Linked DNA regions of Homo sapiens: regions 2 and 3 are each linked to region 1. Evidence: fine-mapped expression QTL. A gene starts in region 1. Each other region holds a variant in brackets. All regions are shown on one strand. Distances are from middle to middle.

Region 1 (7,025 bases):
CAAATTAGTGTGTTATACAGTGATATGGTTTGGCTGTGTCCCCACTCAAATCTCATCTTGAATTGTAATTCCCATAATTCCTACATGTCGTGGAAGGGGCCCGGTGGGAGGTAATTGAATCATGGGGGTGGTTACCCCCATGCTGCTGTTCTCCTGACAATGAGTGAGGTCTTATGAGATCTGATGGTCTTTTATAAGGGGCTTTCCCCGCTTTTGCTCAAGACTTCTCCTTCCTGCCACCTTGTGAAGAAGGACATGTTTGCTTCCCCTTCCACCATGATTGTAAGTTTCCTGAGGCCTCCTCAGCCCTGTGGAACTGTGAGTCAATTAAAGCTCTTTCCTTTATAAGGACTTGACTCTAAAATTACCCAGTCTTGGGTATGTCCTTATAGCAGCGTGAGAACAGACTAATGCATCCAGTGACACACATGATTTCCTCTATGAGGGAAAAGAAGTCAGGGGAGAGAAATGAGGGGCTGCTGTTTGCAGGGGCCAGGGCAGGCCTCAGTGAGAAGGAGGCAGGGAGGGGAGGCTGGCAGAGTTGAAGCAAAGGCCACAGGTTGGGGAAGGCAGGCGAGGACCATGCAAGGGGGATACAGGTAGGACAGCCAGGTGCCAGCACCTGTGGGTATGGAGACGACTCTGCTTCAACTCTGAGACAGACCTGCTGGAGGGGTCTGGGCAGAGCAGCATCCGGTCACTCACTGGGTGGAGAGCAGGCTGGGGGGTGGGAGGAGCAGGTGCTGCCTGGCATTGAGGTGGCAGTGGGCAAGTGGTGAGGAGGGACTGGGCTCTGAACAGGGTTTGAAGAGCGGACGCAATCTGCTGTCAGGGCGACGTTGCTGAGTTCTGTCTGAGCAGTGAGGACAGAGATGAGAAGACCAGGGTGGAGCAGGTGTGGAGCGAGGATCTGGAGTTCCATTCTGGACATGATGAGGCCGAGATGTCTGTGGGCATCTGCCGGGTCTACTGAGTCCAGAATCCCAGGGAGTGGCCCGAGCTGGGGAGCTGAGGGGCAGCCCTGCAGGCACAGCACCCGCTGCGAGCTGCCCTGGCAGGGAGCCCATGAGCCACCAGCCCTCATGCAGCTCGCTCTTGTTTCCAAGCTAATCTCCCACCAACCAGTAGGTCCCTGGGACCCTGCTGGCTCCTGTATGTGTTCCAGCACCCAGCCCAAGACACAGGCTTAGCGGGGATTTGAAATGCTAGGGAGTGCGCCACTCTCTCCCTTCCCACAGCAAGAACTATCAGTACACTCTGCATCCATGGACAGGCAAGGTCCAGGCTGTCATCAGACTGACAGATCTGACCTAGGAAAATAAAGCTATGTCAATCAAAAATAAGTCGGGGCTGGGCGCAGTGGCTCACACCTGTAATCCCAGCACTCGGGAGGCCAAGGCGGGTGGATCACCTGCGGGTCAGAAGTTCGAGACCAGCCTGACCAACATGGTAAAACCTTGTCGCTACTAAAAATACAAAAAAAAAAAAAAAAAAAAAAAAAAAAAAAAGCCAGCGTGGTGGCGCACGCCTGTAATCCCAGCTGCTCTGGAGGCTGAGGCAGGAGAATCACTTGAACCCGGGAGGTGGAGGCTACAGTGAGCTAAGATCATGCCACTGCATTCCAGCCTGGGCGACGGAGCAGGACTCCATCTCAAAAAAAAAAAAAAAGAAATAATAAAAAACAGAAACCACTGGAATAGTAAAGATATATATACGTATTTTGTTTTTGTTTTTGTTTTGAGGCAGAGTCTTGCTCTGTCTCCCAGGCTGGAGTGTAGTGGTGTGATCTCAGCTCACTGCAACCTCCACCTCCTGGGTTCAAGTGATTCTTCTGCTTCAGCCTCCCAAGTAGTTGGGATTACAGGCATGCGCCACCATGCCTGGCTAATTTTTTTTGTATTTTTTTGTAGAGACAGGATTTTGGCAGGTTGACCAGGCTGGTCTCGAACTCCTGACCTCAAGTGATCTGCTCACCTTGGCCTCGCAAAGTGTAAAGATATTTTTAAAATAGAGAAAAATCAATGAAATCAAGGGATGATTTTTTTTAAAAACTCAATAAAATTGATAAATATAGACTGATCAAGGAAAATGAGAGGGATGAGATAAATTACCTATGTCAAGAATGAAAGATGGCTCATCATTATGGACCATACAGACGTTAAAAGGATAATAAGGAAATATGCTGAACAACTTTATGCCAATAATCTGACATCTAATAATTGGATGAAATGGACAAATTCCTTAAAAGAATTACCAAAGTTTATTCAATATTACCTTGATAACTTGAATAGCCCTCTAGCTGATGCAGAAGTGAATTTCTCATTAAAAACCTTCCCACAAAGAAATCTCGAAGCCCAAATGGGTTCCCCAGCGAATACTACCACAATTTTTAGGGAATAAGTTACCCCATCCTACTCCCAGGTCACTGCAGGCCCGGCTTAAACCGACCCCAAACCAGACAGACACAGAAAACGGGAGGTCGGCCACAGAGCAATCTGCTTCACCAGCACCGTCCCCAACCTTGGACAAAGCGTTACCAAGCTGAGTCAGGCAATACACCAAAAGGATAACGAATCGTGACCAAGTGAGTTTTCCAAGGAGAGCCAAACAATGTAATTCCCTATGGGCTGAAATAAAAAGCTACAGGATCATTTGAATACATGCAGAAAAGCGTTGCAGAAAATTTCACACCCACTCATAAGAACTCTTGGAAAAACAGGAATAGAGGGAACTTCCTCAACTTGATAAAAAACACCAACAAAAAACGACTCCTAACATCACTCTGGGTGGTGAAAGCGCACTTTTCCCTAATGTGTGGGCGGCAAGAAGGCGGACCCGCTCGAAGCTCCGCCCACCCACGCGAGGCCCCGCCCGCCCGCTCGAAGCCCCGCCCACCCGGCGGTCACACCGCCTTGCGCGCTCGGCATGACGTCACTCCCACCAGGCACCTCGCCTTGTCAGGAGCTGCCAGGCGCCAACCGCCGACCTCTGACCGCTACGGGTCCCGGCTCGCGCAACGACCCCAAGGCGCATGCCCAGGCGCGGCGACCCCATTGGTGGCGGGCGGCGGGAGCGGCGCGGGCGCGTGCGGGCGGCGGCAGCGGCGGTGACGGCAGCCTAGGCCGGGCGAGGGCCATGCTGAGCCTCGCAGCCAAGCTGGTGGCCTTCTTCTGGAGGACGGCGGACACCCCTAGGGAGGAAGCCGGGCAGCTGGAGCCCGAGCTCGCGGAAGGTGGCTCGCGGGAGGCGGCTGGGAGGCGGGTCCCGGGCCCTCGCGTGTCGGCCACGAGGGAGCCGCGCCCATAGGTCTTTGAGTGCAGTGCGGGCCGGCAGGCAACGCTGGGCCCGGCCTTTCCTCATCTCCGCTGGCGGGGATCCCCGTTCGCCTCAGGAGGCTTCCGACCCCACAGCATCCCGCCGCTCTGGGCGCCCGTCCTCTGTGAGGTCTCTCCGGTGACACCAGCCCCTCTTCCCGCCCTCACTTTGTGTGTTTACGCCGAGCAGCTGCCAAGTCGTCTCTCCATGTCGTTCCTCCCTGTCCGCAGCGTCATTGGCGGTGGTGTGTCTAGAAAGCCCCGAAAAACGCGGCCCCGCAGACTTGGCCTGTCCTTTCAGAACGCGCTGCGCCAAGGCGTGCCATTTCCTTGTCTGGTTTTCAAGCCCATCTTTCTAAAGCCCGGGATGCGCCCGGATGCCCTCACCGTTCCTTTCTCCTGAGGTGTTTGTGTGTGTGTGTGTGTGAGACGGAGTTTCGCTCTTGTTGCCCAGGCTGGAGTGCAGTGGCGCAATCTCGGCTCACCGCAACCTCCGCCTTCTGGGTTCAAGTGATTCTCCTGCCTCAGCCTCCCGAGCAGCGGGGATTATAGGCACCCGCCACCACGCCCGGCTAATTTTTGTATTTTTAGTCGAGGGGGGGTTCGCCATGTTGGTCAGGCTGGTCTCGAACTCCTGATCTCAGGTGACCCACCCACCTTGGCCTCCCAAAGTGCTGGGATTACAGGCTTGAGCCACCACGCCCGACCTCTCCCGAGGTTCTGATGGCTTCTCCCGATGTTTCCTTATGTGGGAATGGAATCCACAGTAGTGGGTCCCTAATTGCCTTCTGTGAGAAAAGACAGGAACAGGCTTCAGGAGGGGAGCTTCCTGCTGCAGGCAGCGTGTTCAGGGCCTCTGGATCCACGAGGGCCGATGCCCGGGGGGCCGGCTGTGTTACCTGGAGCACTTGCTCCGTGGATCTCTTCGGTAGAACACGCGCTCAGCGGTAGCTGGAGCTCCAGCTCTTGGCAGCGCTCAGATCCTATGCCTGTACTGTAACCGTCGCCCCAGGTTCCTCCCGTGGCTGGGAAGCTGCAGTAAAGGCACGTTCAGGACTCAGGACCGTGGCTGCAGCAGTGGCCAGACGGCTGAGGGCGTGCGCTGCTCCTGGGCCAGACTTGTCTGCCCAGCCCCGAACCTTTTCCAGCACCGTGTTTGTTGAGATTCTCCAGTCTTCCGAGGCTGCTGCTGATGGTAATAAAAAGATAATCGATAGTACTAATAAAACCGTGCATGCTAATGACTCCCAGATGCTGATATAAGTGGCCATTTACATAGCACTTAACGCGTGTCAGCCACGCAGAGGTCCATACATGCACGTGTGTTCTGCCACTTAACCCTTCAGCAGCTCTCTTGGGTAGTGACGATTAGTCTCCATCTTACAGATGGCAACAGGCCCAGAGTAGTTAAGGACCTAGTCCAGGGTTACACCAATGGCAGTAGAAGAGCTAGGAGTCAACCCCATGCAGTCTGTTGTGGAGTCAGGGCTGTCACCTCCACAACCACTACCTGTGCCCTTCTGAGGAAACTGGGCTGTCTGCCTCCAAACCCCACGTTCCAGACACAGCACTCTCTGATGGGATTCTCTCTGTCTCAAGTCAGCCCGTTCGGAGTCAGTGCCTCCGAACTGCAAAAAAAGGAGGCTTTTGCACTCTGCCTTTCTCTGGTGGGGTTCACTGTAGCGTACGCTTGCTTTTATGGCCAAGATAACTTCTTTGTTTACCTACCTCAGGTGACACTAAGCTGAAAACTGTACGGGGTGTCGTGACAAGGTACTGCAGCGATTATGGCATGATTGATGATATGATCTACTTCTCCAGTGATGCTGTGACTAGCAGAGTGCTTCTGAATGTTGGACAGGAAGTGATTGCAGTTGTGGAAGAAAATAAAGTGTCCAATGGACTGAAAGCAATCAGGGTAAGGTTTGAGTTCATTTGGGAACAGTTTTTCTTCGCCACGGGACTTTGTGTTGTTTTTCCTTGTGTTTAATCTATCAGACATGACCCGGCCAAGGGAGAAAGAGTGGAATGTACCTTCAAGGGGATGCTTTTGCTCTTTATGATTTATGTTTTAAAAAATAGACTGGGTACAGTGGCTCACGCCTGTAATCCCAGCACTTTGGAAGGCTGAGACAGGCAGATCACTTGAGCTCAGGTGTTAAGAGACCAGCCTGGGCAGCATGGTGAAACCTCGTGTCTACAAAAAAAAAACCCACAAAAGTTAGCCTGGTGTCGTGGCACATACCTGTAGTCCCAGCTACATGGGAGGCTGAGGCGGGAGGATCGCTTGAGCCCAGAGGGTCAAGGCTGCAATGAGTTATGATTGCACTACCACACTCCAGCCTGGATGACAGAGCAAGACCCTGTCTCAATAAATAAACAAACAGCAGTCTTTGTAAATCATTCAAACAACATAGACATGTATACTTTAGAAAGTAAAGTTTGCCTATGAATTTATGCTGTGGAGAACATAGCAATTATATATCCATTATTTTCTTGCTTTTTCAACAATTTAATGGTTATCACCAAAGTAACATCAATAATATACAAATTTATACTCTTAGGAGCAGAATGAGAGACTGCACTTAATTTGCACTTAAGCCTTAAGTATGGTAACTTTTCTTTTTCTTTTTGTTTTTGTTTTTGTTTTTTTCTGAGACGGAGTCTCTGTCGCCCAGGCTGGAGTGCAGTGACGCAATCTCAGCTCACTGCAAGCTCCGCCTCCTGGGTTCACGCCATTCTCCTGCCTCAGCCTCCTGAGTAGCTGGGACTACAGGCACCCACCACCACACCCAGTTAATTTTTTTGTATTTTTAGTAGAGACGGGGTTTCACCGTGTTAGCCAGGATGGTCTGGAGCTCCTGACCTCGTGATCTGCCCACCTCAGCCTCCCAAAGTGCTAGGATTACAGGTGTGAGCCACCGCGCCCGGCCTCATGTTTTTTCTATGAATTATTTTTGGGTCCTTTGTCCACATTTTTGTTGAGTTCAGCTTTTTCTTTTGTTAAAGCTTATATATTAGGGAAATCAGAGCTTTTTAAGGAAAATTATTATATGAAAGTGTTAGGAATATTTTCCCCAGGATCATCTTTGACTGTGTTTTATAGTTTCATTTTTTGTAGTTAAGTGTGCCTCTTTTCCATGTAGCTTTTGGATGCTGTAAGAAGCCTTAGGGAGGCTTATTCCACTTCTTATTCCTAATATTCAAATTTTACTCTGAAAATTGTTTATTGACAATTAGAATTTTTTTTTCAATTTTTGAGACAGAGCTTTGCGCTGTCGCCCAGGCTGGAGTATAGTAGTGCGATTATAGTTCACTGCAGCCTGGAACTCCTGAGCTCAAGCGATTCTTCCACCTCAGCCTCCTGAGTAACTGGGACCACAGGTGTACACCATCATACCTGACTAATTTTTAAAATTTTTTTGTAGAAATGGCGTCTCACTGTGTTGCGTAGGCTGATCTGAAACTCCTGGCCTCGAGTGGTCCTTCCACCTCGGCCTCCCAAAGTGTTGGGATTACAGGCATGAGCCACCATGCCTGGCCTGTTTGTTGATATTTAAATATTTGACCTGCCTGGAATTTATTTGGGTGCACAGACTGAGAGAAGGAACCAGACATTGCTTTCCTAATGGCTAGCCAGTCATCTGAGTAGCTCACTTTTTCCCTGCTGATTTGGAAAATTCCTTAATCATGTATCAGAATCCCACCTGC
Region 2 (7,025 bases), 28 kb after region 1:
TGTCCCTCCAGGGGGAAAAACCTTCATTGTGGTCATCTGTGACGGAAAGTAAGGGCCTGGAGGTCTGGGGAGAGCCGCGTTTTTAAGTTTCTCTGATACTTCTAGGTTGGGTGTTATAAAAGGTACTCCTTTGTGGCGGGTGGATCACCTGAGACCAGGAGTTCGAAACCAGCCTGGCCACCATGGCGAAACCCCGCCTCTACTAAAAATACAAAAATTACTTGGGCCCCTGTAGTCCTAGCTACTCAGGAGGCTGAGGCAGTAGAATCGCTTAAATCCAGGTGACGGAGGGTGCAGTGAGCCAAGATCGCACGACTGCACTCCAGCCTGAGACGGAGCAAGACTCTGTCTCAAAAAAACAAAAAGGTACACCTGACGTTTTTGATGTGACAGAATCCTAAGAAAAAGCATTGGTCTAGAAGCTGGGTACCAAGTGTGACCCACCTGGGGCAATGGATCCTGTAACTTCGCACGACTCATGAGGGTCCTCACCAGATGGCCTCTCACCCTCACAAAGAAAACAGGGTGTCTCTGAGGCTCTCTGAGGCCTGAGCTCCCTGTGCTTCTGCTGTTCTGAGACATCACGTTGGCTCCTCTTCACTGCCTTGCCCGTGTTCCGCATAGCCAAGCCCTGGGGCCTCGGTCATCTCCATCCCGTCACCTGGGCATTTGGCCAAGGCACGGACAGCACAGTGTGCTGAGGGAGGGGCAGGAAGGGCCCCTTCCTAGCTGGGATGCCAGACGCCAACCTTGAGCCCTTCGCTCTCCCTGGTGTGGTTGGTTACATCAGCTGACCAAACAGGCCCTGTCCTCCAGCTCCCTGTGTCCCTGCATCCCTGCCTAAGCTGCCCGACAGTGCGTGATAGCCTTCCAGCTGGGTGTCTAATTCTAAATTTTTTGAAAAACTTAAATCTGATTAAATCACAGCTCATCAACATCAAGCTGTGGGTGGCAAGTGCACAGTCAGCTGTGTGAGGTGCAGCCAGCTTCAATGCTTTTTTTTTTTTTTTGACATTATGACAACATAGAAACAGGTTTTTTCAAAAAAGCCATAGGTGCTAACACAGTGAAACCCTGTCTCTACTAAAAATAAAAAAAATTAGCTGGGCGTGGTGGCGGGCACCTGTAGTCCCAGCTACTCAGGAGGCTGAGGCAGGAGAATGGCGTGAACCTGGGAGGCGGAGCTTGCAGTGAGCCGAGATCACGCCACCGCACTCCAGGCTGGGTGACAGAGCGAGACTCCGTCTCAAAAAAAAAAAAAAAGCCATAGGGGGGCACAAAGTGTAGTGTGGATGATGTAGCCCCAGTTAGAGCCACAGCGAGGACTGGGCAGAAAGCACATTAGATATAGTACCTATTTTTGGTCATGTCATAAAATTCTGACTTAAAATTGGGAATATCAAAATTTTTTCCTACTCTTATATGTGTTAGGATTACAAAAAAGACTATTGTAGATGCTTACTTTTTTTTTTTTTTTTTTTTTTTGAGACAGGGTCTCACTCTGTTGCCCAGGCTGGAGTGCAGAGGCATGATCACAGCTCACTGCAGCCTCCACCTCCCTAGGCTCCCACCTCAGCCTCCCGAGTAGCTGGAACCACAGGCACACGCCTCCATGTCCGGCTAATTTGTGTATTTTTTGCAGAGACAGGTTCATCCTATATTGCCCAGGCTGGTCTCAAACTCCTGGGCTCAAGCGATCTGCCCGCCTCAGTCTTCCAAAGTGCTGGGATTACAGGCCTGAGCCACCGCACCGGGCCTGTAGGTGCTTAATTTTATCTTGAGAAAATATTAATTACATAGCTTATTTTAGAAGATCTCTTTTTTCTCTGTAAAAAGAATTATTGAAGACTAAAGATGAGTCTTAACTCTGTCACTTTTCTTGTATGTACAAAGGAAAATTGTGTTGACTGCCTATCTTATTTATGACTAAAACTAAATTTCATTTTGTTTTTTTCAAGAAATCCTGGCCGCTGCAAGGAGCTCCTTTTGCTCTGTTTTTCCGATTTCCTAATTGGGCGATACCTTGAAGTAAATGTTATCAGTGGGGAGGAGTCACTAATTGCTGCGCGCGAACCATTTTCTTGGAAAAAGCTTAAAAGTTCACAAGCGTTAACATCCGCAAAAACTACAGTTGTTGTGACCGCACAGAAAAGGTACCATAACTGAAATGAGTGTGGCTCTTGGTCTGGCAGTTTTATCTGTGAAGGAAAAGCGGACGTGCACTGGCAAGCGGTGGCTACCACCTGGCTGGGGAGGTATAAAGGGGATGAAGCTGGGGTTCAAGCCTCTTTCCATGATTGTATTTGGGGGATGGAGTGCATTTCCACGGAGCTCTGAAGGTCAAGTTCTGTCTCTGCAGCTGCCCAGCAGCAGCGTGAAGCCCAAGGAAGACGGCCTTCACTCCCCCAAGCCCCACTCTGCTCTGGCAGTTCCAAGGTGGCTCTCAGAGCAGGCTGGCCTCACCCAGCTCCTGCCACCTCTCCCGTCCTGACGAGGCCATGGTGTGTAGTGCACGGCATCCCCGTGTCATTCGCACTGGGGGCAACAGGATTGTGGGGTCACCTGAAGCCTGTTTGAAGATGTGGTACCACTTAAGAATGGAGTTAGGAGAAGCAGTGTGTGATCTGGGACTTGTGGCTGGGGAACATAGGGACCACCCAGATTTTAACTGGAGGGTAGTCTCAGGAAAGCACTTCACATCCACGTGTTCTCTTCTGTAGTTATAAAACGAAAAAGCCCTGAATAGCAGGCTTTTTAAAGTGTAATGACTTAGTCCCGTGTGATGTGACTTTTCCTCCATCGGCTATAATAACTGATGGGTTTGAGCTCTGCTACTACCCCAGACCTCCCTGAGGGTGAGGTGGGTCACTTTTCTAATACTGAAAGATTCTGAATTTCAAATCACGTGTTGCCCCAGTTACAGTTCAAGATGAGGGATTATGGACTTCTACTTAGTTGCAGACTAAAGGGAAAACCTGTTACCAGGGAAGAATATCATGTGGTTGTTTACCTTTTAAGGTTAGACCATTGTTTGAATCACAGCACCACCACCAAGAAGCTGTGTGACCTTGGGCAAGTTTCTTAACCACTCTGAGCCTTGTTCTCATTGGTAAAATGATAGTCCCTGCCTCGTGTGGTTTGAAGATTGAATGAGGTCAGACATGTAAAATGTGCAGTTTTCTGGCACAAAGCAATCACTCAGTAAGCGAATAAGCAGTCATGATCCCTGGGCATATTATTATTGAGAAAAAGGGGCTCACTGCCTGATGCACTAGGGGCCATTGCTACGACAGTGGGTTTCTGAGAAAAGAAAAGCTTTGTATTGAAAACCAACCCCCAAGGAGACAGGAGTCAAGCTCAAATGTGTCTCTCTGTGCTGGCTTTAAGGCAGTAATTTTGTCAGAAAACGTTTAGTGGGTAGAATCTGGGATTAATAGGTGGTTGGTGGAAGGAAAAGGGAGGTCTGGAAAGGCCTTGGGTGTGCATAGTTACCCCTTCATGCTACCTCATGGGTCACATGTGCCAGTTCGGAGGGAGTTCGCATGAAACACGGTGGGAATCCAGGCTGTGACGTCAGTAAGCTCTGCACAAACTCCAGTTGTCCATCTTGGTTCCAGCTGATCTCAGCCAGTCCTTTGATGTCATAAGCAGGGGGAGACTCAGCGCTGGAGTTGTTTCTTATCACCCATCCTGCAGGCTCAAGAATTTCTGTTAGTCATCGGTTTCTTTAACTCTTTGGGGCACAGTTTCAACATCAAGGGGCTGTAGGGATGTAACCC[A/G]GAAAAGGAGCAGGAAAGTCCCTCGGCTGCCAGGCAGAGCAGAGTCCCCGAGGATCGAGTTTTAATGACAGGAGCCTTGGAGGATCCCTGGTTCTCATCTAGTGACACACCAAGCAGCTTTCTAGTTATCATTTGGCTTAACAGAAAGAGTGAAATACACAGAGCAACAGCCACAAGGATTTTAACCCCCTGGTCAGTTACTTCCCCGTGAATATTAACATATTGTGTGGGAGCGTATCTAAAACAAGGACATCAGTTTCCTGCCACTCAGGTTAGTGACCCAGAGTGCCTGACCCGGGTTGGCTCGAGCACACCTGGAGCACCAGGTGTCTGGACCTGCCCACGCGGGCATTGGCGGGTGCCTGCTTCCAGAGCTGTCCATCCGTGGCCGCCTGTCACAGGTCCTGCACTTCCTGCTAGGACCCCCAGTGCCAGGCAACTTTGGCTCTTAGCTAGAGCAGAGTGTTCACTTAGCAGATCTGTTCTGGGGGGCTTTGTAGGCCAGCACACTCCCAGCCAAGTTTCTAGCCACCCATCATGGTAGGAACCACATTTTGTTAATCCAGCGTGTCTGTTGAGGCCACATGGTTCTGTTAGCTGTTCAGGCTGTTGACCTAAGCCTGTAGTGATCATCCTGGTTTCCCTTTACCTTGTTCGTGTTAGTAATCAATGCTTTCCAAATACACCTCGCATGTGAGCGCTGACATAACCCTCAGCACAAACCATGGGGAATGTCTTCACCCCGTTTCTCCTGTTGAGGGCTGAGCCAGTGGAACCCAAATTGAGATGACAGTGAATGGAATACGGAGAGCAATGTGGGCTTCTCTCTTGGGTGAGACTGCACTGAAATGGAGAGCTGGGAGGGAATGAGGGATAAAGGTCCAACCAACATCCTTATTTGCTGAGTTGAGTTTTATCGACCTCACTCTGACTTTTCGTTTCCCTGTTCTCTCCTGGCTTCTCCTCTCCTGTCTGTCCCTTTCCCATTGTTTCTGTTGCCGCATTGGGCTTGGCTCCAGAGCAGCGATGTTCTTCATCCTGAACAAACTGAATTTCCCCAGAGAAACCACAGGCTGGGAAACAAAACAAAAACAAATCGAAGGCAGGACCCAGACAGAGCAGCCTTTTCCTAATGTGTGCTTTGCAGGGATAGGCCCAGGTGGAGTCCTGATGTCAAATATAGTAGGAAGAGCTTAGCTCATAGAATGTTAAAAACAGCTGTTTCCAAACTCCTGGTTCCAGGAGATTCTGGGGGTTCCAGCCCTGTTTTCCCACAGCCTGTGCAGCTACACTTACCTGTTTACAAATAGTAGAGCACTTGTGGGAACTGTTTGAGGAAAGGATCCCAGAGCTAAAACGAAAGCTTCAAACCACTGCCTTAGACCAGCTATTCATATATCAGTTCTTCTCAGGAAATGGATGGACTTTGGTCTTCCTAAAATAGGAAAGGATGTTTAGGTAAGAATGTCTAGTGATACCTGGTGATAAAGACTTATTTTTAACTTGTGAACTTAATTTTTTAAGGAACTCAAGACGACAACTTCCAAGTTTTCTTCCCCAATATCCAATCCCAGATAGACTTAGAAAATGTGTGGAACAAAAAATTGACATCCTGACTTTCCAGCCATTACTTGCAGAGGTAGGAAGTGTCTCATGGCCTGTGGGGTGTTGGCATCTTCTAATGCTCTTGTTTTCTGACAAAGCCAGGAGGTTCCTTCTCAGGTTCAGACCTTCATCTGGCTTGTTTTCTTCACAGGTAGCTGGGATAACGAGGGTCACTGCCTGGCCGTGAGGGATGAGGCACCATAGCACTCACGCTGCCAGACCTGCTGTACACCAGGGGCTGGCATCCCACAGCCTCACTGGGGGTCACGCACAGGGCCTTTGGGGTCTGGAGCAGAAGAACTGAGGGATACCTCTGCCATCAGCCTGGCCTCTCTCGCTAGACTAGGAGGCCTTTGTTATGAGCAAGAAGTGTTCTAGCCTTTTACCATCATCCTGACAGAGCCAGCAGGGCAAGGGTCCAGGGGAGGAGAGCCCAGGTCCCCACCCACATGGGAGACAGAGGAGCACGTTCTGAGTGGGGTAGGTGGAGAAGAAAAGTTCAAGAAGGAAGAAAAGTCTATAAATTTGGCAGTTTGAGGGGAGAACATTGCCCTTTGTCCAGGAGGGTTTTTTTCTGTAGGGGTTTGAGGTGTTCTGAGAGTCCCCAGCTAAACTGGAGTTCCAGTGCCAGAGCAGCTGGCAGCCCTGTCCTAAGGAGAATGAAGGGAATGGGACCTAGGTGTTCACCATGCGCCCTTCAGGGGATCCTTTCCAAATACACCTCCTTGTTTAAAAAAATGTCCTTGTTTTACCAGGAGGACAGCTGATGCCCCATGACCGGGGTTCCTCACGCAGGAAACTTATTCTGGCAGACGCCCCAGTGGCTCTCGTCTGACCTGTATCCAGGTTATGCCTGCCTGATCATCTGGCACTGGGAGCCCAAACTTATGTTCCCCAATGCCAGGGAAAACCCGGCCTGGGCAGTGCTGGGTTCTTAGGATGGAAGGTGCAAATTCAATCCACTGCCGTGATAGAAACAAGTTCAGATGTGTTTTACTCACAGATCCTGGGCAGGGAGGTTGCCATGAGTCGCGAGCGCAGTCCTCTGTCCCCCAGTCACTTTGAGTTTGTAGGCAAATGCCTGAATGGTTCATCGAGGTGGCAGAAAAAGCTGGACCTGGGTCTGCTAGGATGGAGAGGTGCTCCTCAGCTCCTCCCTGGGGACCCAGGTCTGCTGGGCTTGGAGGGTGCTCCTCAGTTCCTTCCACAGGCCACCGACTTGATGTTTTGATGCTGCAGCTTTGTAGTAAGTTTTGAAATCAGGAAATTTGAGTCCTCCAGCTTTGTTGTTCTTTGGCAGAATTTATTTTGCTTTTCAAGATCTTTTATACGAATTTTAAGATGCATTTTTCTATTTCTGCAAAATATAGCATTGGAATTTTTTTTCCCCAGAGACGAGGTCTCACTACATTGCCCAGGCTGGTCTCAAACTCCTGGCCTCAAGTATTCCTCCCGCCTCAGCCTCCCAAAGTGCTTGGGATTACAGGTGTGAGCCACTGCACCCGGCCTGTCATTGGAATTTTGATGGGAATTGCATTGAATCTGTAGATTGCGTTGGTTAGTATGGACATTTTAACAATATTGAATCCTCCAGGCTATGAACATGGAATGTGTTAACATTTATTTATGTCTTCTTTAATT
Region 3 (7,025 bases), 38 kb after region 1:
CAAAGGCCAGGGAGTGTGCTGGAGCCCCATGGCCCTCGTGCTGAAGGCCGGGGAACTTACTGAGGCACCTGCAGACTCCGGCGAGGATCGCCCCACCTGGGGGGCCATCTGCTGAACTGGAGCTGTTGGAACTTTCCTGCTCCGGAGCTGCTACTTTCCAGAGTGCTGCTGAGCTGTTGCTGACTTTATAACATTTGGGTGTTTTCCAGCTTCTGAACATGTCAAATTACAAGGAGAAGTTTTCGACTTTGCTGTGGCTTGAGGAGATTTATGCAGAAATGGAACTGAAAGAGTATAACATGAGCGGGATCATCTTAAGAAGGAATGGGGATCTGCTGGTTCTGGAGGTCCCAGGGTTGGCCGAAGGGAGGCCTTCTCTCTACGCAGGTGTGTTTGTTACTCATATGCTTCCCTGGGTGGACTAGCAGAGAAACCATACTTGAGAGAAGATACTCTTTAACTGGCAATATGACAGTCACATTATCGCATTTTCTTTCTTTTGGGTTAGAATTTCACTAAAAATCAGCAACCGATGTACATCAAGCATGTTTCTTTGTTGTATTTCATTAGTTGTAAGCAGTTGACCCCAGTAATGTTTTTGTTTGTTTGTTTGTTTGTTTTTTGAGGTGGAGTCTCGCTGTGTCGCCCAGGCTGGAGTGCAGTGGCGCAATCTCAGCTCATTGCAACCTCTGCCTCCCGGGTTCACGCCGTTCTCCTGCCTTAGCCTCCCGAGTAGCTGGAACTACAGGCGCCCGCCACCACACCCGGCTGATTTTTTTTTTTGTATTTTTAGTAGAGATGAGGTTTCGCCGTGTTAGCCAGGATGGTCTCGATCCCCTGACCTTGTGATCCGCCCGCCTCGGCCTCTCAAAGTGCTGGGATTACAGGCATGAGCCACTGCACCCAGCCTGACCCCAGTAACGTTTTATTGAACCTCCTCAGTGTTGGATTTTATAGGACAGCACAGAAATTTGTGATTTTGTGTTAGCTTTAAACATGGTAATATATTTTTTAACTAGGTGATAAACTGATTTTAAAAACTCAAGAGTACAATGGACATGCCATCGAATACATCAGCTACGTGACTGAGGTGAGAGCACTCTCTCTTAATGAGTTTGTGTTAGACACACCCTTCTGACCGGTTGGAAAGGTAACGTTCTCCCCACGGCTCTTGGGGAGATGCTCCCATATGCATTGGCTATTTTGGAAAATGTCAAGATACAGTGAATCTTTAAATAATTTTTGATGCATAAAGGAAACTTAATACTATAATTTTCAACCATGTAAAACATATTTATCTTTTAGGTTATATGTAAGTCATGAGGTTTGCGTTGAGTTGTATTTGGGCATTCTGAATGTATTCCAGAAGAGCTCGCAGAGTGGAGGCCTTGAAAGGAAAAATACACCTATGAGTTTGCAGCTCTGATGTTTGCGTGAAGGTGGTTTTTTTGGCTTTGAGTAGATCCTGGTGCTCCAGATGGTTCTGCATGGGGTGGTCTGTGACTCTTGGGCTGGACTTTACTGGTCATGTACTGGTCATAGCACTGGGAGTGATACTGGGATCTGCATGAGAAGGGAGGTGCTCTATCTGTGCATCAGAGAAGATGAAGCCACACATTACTTAATGTAGAAAACTTGAAGGGAGAATGCCAGAGCCTTTACTGTCAGAAGGAAGAAGGGCTGAGAGAACTAGAAGAGCCTGATAAGGATCTGGAGAAGAGGCAGCTTCCGACCTTTGATGCCACAGTCACTCTGCGCTACACCTTCATGCAGGGTCCATGCTGTGGCTGATTTCACAGAGTGGGATATTTCCCAGAAGACAACATCTTGGCAGGATTTCAGAGATTTTGTAATGAATTAGGCCATCGCCTGTGGACTGAGATGTGAGACACGAGTGACATGACCTCGCCAGCTCTCCATTACCCACCTTTGCTGTTGACCAAGTTGACATGAGGAGCCCAAGATGGCCGAATGACCATCTTAGCCTCCTAGACCAGCTGTGCCAAGAAAGGAAGCTTTGCATACCAAAACCTCCAAAGAAGCAGAGCCAGAGATCTCAGGAGGAAGGCACCTGCCTGCCTCCACCCCTGGTTCCTGAGCCATATGGCCGGGCCTCCATGCCATTGATCAAACCCTGGCATCTGAAATGACCTTCCGTATCCTTTTTAGCTCCAAAAATTATTTTCATCTTTTCAGGCTTTCTTGGATGCCACCTGCACCTGTTCTCAAGTAGACTAACGCATGTCTCCTGTGTATAGTCAGGACTTGGTCTGTCTTCCTCATCCTCAGGGGAAACAATCCCATGGCCCTGTACCACTGTTGCTTCCCTTCCTCCCGGAGCTGGAAGCCATCCCAGGGCGTAGCTTCCCGACTCTCTGCTGGTGTCAGCCCTGACCCTCAGGAAACTCACCCTACCAGGGTGTTGCCTGAGTCACCTGGAGAAGAGCTTGAGCTCCTTTTCAGATCAGGGCTTTCCTTCTTATTTTTCTACCCATACTGTCTAGGAAAGAATATGCAGAACTGATCATGCAGGATCTTGCTTTAGCTGGAGGGCTTTTCTACTAAAAGGATAAGTCTTGTAATGACTGTTTTTTTTGTTTTTTTTTTTGAGATGGATTCTCACTCTGTCACCCAGCCTGGAGTACAGTGGTACGATCTTGGCTCACTGCAACCTCCGCTTCCCAGGTTCAAGAGATTCTCCTGCCTCAGCCTCCCAAGTAGCTGGGATTACAGGTGCCCAGCACCACGCCTGGGTCCTTTTTCTATTTTTAGTGGAGATGGTTTCGCCCCGTTGGCCAGGCTGGTCTCAAACTCCTGACCTCAAGGTGATCCGCCCACCTTGGCCTCCCAAAGTGCTGGGATTACAGGTGTGAGCCACCGCACCCAGCAGACCTTCTTATCGAGGCTTCCTTACAGTAGGTAACACTTGGCTACCCTTGTGGTTGTTTTGTTTGTGTCCTATGGAGTCAGTGACCTCCCACACATTCTCTATTCTCAGAGCCTTAGGAGAGGCTACAGCCAAGTGAATAGAAGTTCAGTAAGTATGAGTGTGTAGTGATCCATTTCCTCTTGTTTGTATAATCGAATGGCGTAATGATTTAATCCTTTTCAACTAATTTTGCAGATATCAAATTTTAGCTCAGAGCTATAGAATGAATTTTTGATGATGTGTCGCTAGATAAAGATATCACATTATTTCAAGAAATCAGGTATATTGTTTGTTCCTTTTTTAGATTCATGAAGAAGATGTAACTCTTAAAATTAATCCAGAATTTGAACAAGCCTATAACTTTGAACCTATGGATGTGGAATTTACATATAATAGGTAATGCTTTTAGTGAGTCTTCTTTCAAATGTCTTTTTTTTTTTTTTTTTTTTTTGAGACTGGGTCTCATTCTGTTGCCCAGGCTGGATTTCAGTGGCGCAATCTCGGCTCACTGCAACCTCCGCCTCCCAGGTTCAAGCGATTCTCCTGCCTCGGCCTCCCAAGTAGCTGGGACTACAGGTGCCTGCCACCACGCCTGGCTAATTTTTGTATTTTTAGTAGAGGCAGTGTTTCACCATATTGGCCAGTCTGGTCTTGAACTCCTGACCTTGTGATACGCTTGCCTTGGCCTCCCAAAGTGCTGGGATTACAGGCGTGAGTCACCACGCCC[G/A]GCCATCTTTTTTTTTTTTTAATAGAGATGGGGTCCCAGGCTGGTCATAAACTCCTAGGCTCAAGCGATCCTCCTGCGTCAGCCTCCCAAAGTTTTGGGAGTATAGGTATGAGGCACCATGCCCAGTTAATTTGTCTCTTTATCTTTAATTGGACAGTGTTCTCTTGAGTATGTCTGTTGACATCTAAGTAGTGACGTAGGAGCCCCCACCATGCCTGTGGTTGACGTGTATAGGCCTTGTGGATGGAAGTGGGCTCCTACAGCATTTTTGCATACCCCGTGTTTCTAGCTTTATTATCAACTATTTTTTGAGATATAAAGGTGCATACATTTGCATGTGTATTCTTTCCCAGATCTCATGTGCACCGGATCTTTGGTTCATGCCTCACTGTCACCGTCAGCTACCAGCTCCTTACTTTTATTTGTTTTCTTGTCGGATGAGGGGTGCTGTGACCTGGCACCCAGCTGGCTTTTTCTTCCTCCACAAAACCATTAACTAGTCATGCACAAAAAATGTATTCTTCAGTTTTAATTCTTTTGAACTTTAGAAAAGGAGTAACTTGCTGTATTTGGTTCCTAGGAGTCGAGATTTTCACTAAACATTGTGTTCCTGAGATGTCTCCGTGTTGTTGTAACTGCTGTTCATTGGTTTGCGGTTGTGTGAATACCCGCTGTTTTTCTGTTGATGGACATCTTCATTGTTTGCTGTTACGATTGTTTGCTGCTGTTCCTAGAGCTGCTGTGTATGTAGGGATGGGATTGCTGGGTTTGGGGTTTTTCCAGCTTTACAAGTGGTTGCATCAGTGACTTTCAGTATCCATGTGTATAACAGCCTGCTGATCGGTGCCCTTTCTGTAATCTGATTTTGTTCGACTTCCTAATTGGTGCCAGTCTGGTAGGTGTGTAATGCATCTCATGATGGTCTTGATTTACTTTTCTCTGACTTATTTACAAGGCTGAGAATCTTCTTGTTCGTGGGCCGTAAAATGTTCCTCTTCCATGAAATGCTTGCTTGCGTCTTTTGCCCTCTTTTTTATTGAGTAATTTATCCAATTTTCATTGTTGTGGGAGTCCTTTCTGTATTCCTTATGATAAACTATTCTTAGGTACATATCTTCTCCAGATTTCTTCCTTATCTTTTAGCTTTTTAAAAAGTATCTTTTGAGGCTGGGTGTGATGTAATCCCTAACACTTTGGGAGGCCAAGGCAGGTGGATCTCTTGAGGTCAGGAGTTCGAGACCAGCCTGGCCAACATGGGGAAACACTGTCTCTACTAAAAATACAAAACTTAGTGGGCATGATGGCACATGCCTGCAGTCCCAGCTACTTGGGAGGCTGAGGCAGGAGAATTGCTTGAACCCAGGAGGCGGAGGTTGCGGTGAGCTGAGATCATACTACTGCACTCCAGCCTGAGACAGAGCGAGACTCTGTCTCAAAAAATAAATAAATAAATAAATTTTATATATATATGTCTTTTTATTAACAGAAGGTGCTAGTTTTAATATAGTCAAATTTATCAAATTTTTTTTAATATTAGTGCTTTTTATGTCTGTCTGAGAAATCGGCAGTATTTGGGCTACAGCCAGATTGGAATGTATTGAGAATGAATGAATGGACTACGGGGGAATGGAGAAATGTCGTTGATTCCTTTTTAAGGCATTTGCCGATGAAAGCAGGGAGGGCAGGATGGAGAGAGAGCGAGAGAAATTGGTGACCAAAGAGATACAGGAGGACCAGGAGGGGGGTACTTTTTGTTTGCTGTGCAAGATGAGAGACCCCAGCATGTGAGTGCCATGAGAAGACCCAGGAATGGGAAGGAAGGGGCAGCTGTGTTGGATGATGACGTGTGAGGGTTGGCTGGGACCACAGGGAGCAGCAGCGCTGGTAGAAGGCACACAGCCTCCATCATGGCAGCTAGAGAGACTGCAGCCGACGTCCAGGCCTGGACTCCTTGACCTGCTTTGACTCTGGAACAGAGCTGATTCTTGTAGTGTGAAGGGATATCTCGTTGTGGATTTAATTTGTATTTTTCTAATGACTAATGATGCTGAACATCTTTTCTTTTTTCTTTTTTTTGAGACGGAGTCTCGTTCTGTTACCCAGGCTGGAGTGCAGTGGCACGATCTCGGCTCACTGCAAGCTCTGCCTTCCAGGTTCACACCATTCTCCTGCCTCAGTCTCCCGAGTAGCTGGGACTACAGGTGCCCACCACCACGCCCGGCTAATTTTTTTTTTTTTTTTTTTGTATTTTTAGTGAGACGGGGTTTCACTGTGTTAGCCAGAATGGTCTCAATCTCCTGACCTTGTGATCTGCCCACCTTGGCCTCCCAAAGTGCTGGGATTACAGGTGTGGGCCACCACACCCGGCCACTGAACATCTTTTTATGTGCTTTTTTGCCATTTGTACAAAATACTTGTTGAAGTCCTTCCTCAAGTCTTTGGGCCCATTTTAAAAAATTGTTTTCTCATGATTGAGTTTGCAGAGATGTTTGTATAGTTTCAGTACAGTGCTTTATCAGATACGTGTCTGTGCAAATATTTCCTCAGACTACAGCTTGTATTTTCATTGTTTTTATAGTGCCTTTTGAAATGCAGAAATTATTAATTTTGGTGAAGTCCAGTTTATGAATGTTTTCTTTCACAGATCTTTTAATGATGCATCTCAGAAATCTGTAACTAATTTGGATCTCAACGATTTTATCCTGTTTAGAAACTTGGCAGCTTTATCCTGTACATTTAGGATTATGATCTATCTCATTAAGCTTTGCAAATTGTTTGTGGGGTATGAATGGAAATTGGAGGGTGGAATGAACATCCAGTTGTCCAAGCATTATTTGATGAAAAAACTGCCCTTTCTCCAATGAATTACTATTGTACCTTTGTGAAAAAAAAAAAAAGAAAATCAGTTGACCAAATATTTGTTGATCTGTTTCTGAAGACTCTCTGTTGTGTTCCATTGTACACTTGTCTGTCTTGACACCAACATTACAGGGTCTTATTGTCTGTCTTAGTACACTCAGGCTGCATTAGCATAGCACCATAGATGGGGTGGCTTATAAACAACAGAAATGTATTTCTCATGCTCTGGAGGTCAGGAAGCCCAAGGTCAAGGCACCAGCAGGTTCAGTGTCCTGGTGAGACTGCTTCCTGGTTCGTAGGCGGCTGTCTTTTCCCTGTGTCCTCACGCAGCAGAAGGGATGGGAGAGCTCTCTGTGCTCCCTTGTGTAAGGGCACTAATTCCATTCATGAGGCCCCACCCTCATGACCTAATCACTTGCCAAAGGCCTCAACTCCTCATACCCAGTAACATCACATTGGGGATGAAGTTTCACCATACGAAGCTGGGGGGAACACAAACCTAGTGTATGA

Alleles and levels. Positions count from the first base shown, and alleles are read on the strand shown. Sizes are in standard deviations (SD) of each study's normalised expression.
For the expression in fibroblasts of the gene that starts at base 3,053 in region 1, A is the low allele of the variant in region 2 and G is the other (small effect, 0.19 SD a copy in GTEx).
For the expression in subcutaneous fat of the gene that starts at base 3,053 in region 1, allele G in region 3 goes with a lower level than allele A (moderate effect, 0.69 SD a copy in GTEx).

What was found. PIP is the estimated chance that this variant, and not a neighbour inherited with it, causes the effect.
Region 2: its variant is the best candidate, but not a certain one, in a credible set for the expression of MOV10L1 in fibroblasts (GTEx, PIP 0.81).
Region 3: its variant is the best candidate, but not a certain one, in a credible set for the expression of MOV10L1 in subcutaneous fat (GTEx, PIP 0.75).

Annotation. Positions count from the first base shown.
Region 1 is chr22:50,086,954-50,093,978 of GRCh38, forward strand. It overlaps MOV10L1 (Mov10 like RNA helicase 1), which reads left to right and starts at 3,053. Exons shown (of 27, transcript NM_018995.3): 1 at 3,053-3,232; 2 at 5,048-5,232. The coding sequence starts at 3,136.
Region 2 is chr22:50,115,199-50,122,223 of GRCh38, forward strand. It overlaps MOV10L1 (Mov10 like RNA helicase 1), which reads left to right. Exons shown (of 27, transcript NM_018995.3): 8 at 1-48; 9 at 1,959-2,153; 10 at 5,304-5,418. Among named protein-coding and RNA genes, the nearest start is that of MOV10L1, 29 kb to the left of the region's middle. The variant A/G (reference allele first, on the strand shown) is at 3,780.
Region 3 is chr22:50,125,183-50,132,207 of GRCh38, forward strand. It overlaps MOV10L1 (Mov10 like RNA helicase 1), which reads left to right. Exons shown (of 27, transcript NM_018995.3): 11 at 210-387; 12 at 1,020-1,090; 13 at 3,234-3,325. Among named protein-coding and RNA genes, the nearest start is that of MOV10L1, 39 kb to the left of the region's middle. The variant G/A (reference allele first, on the strand shown) is at 3,657.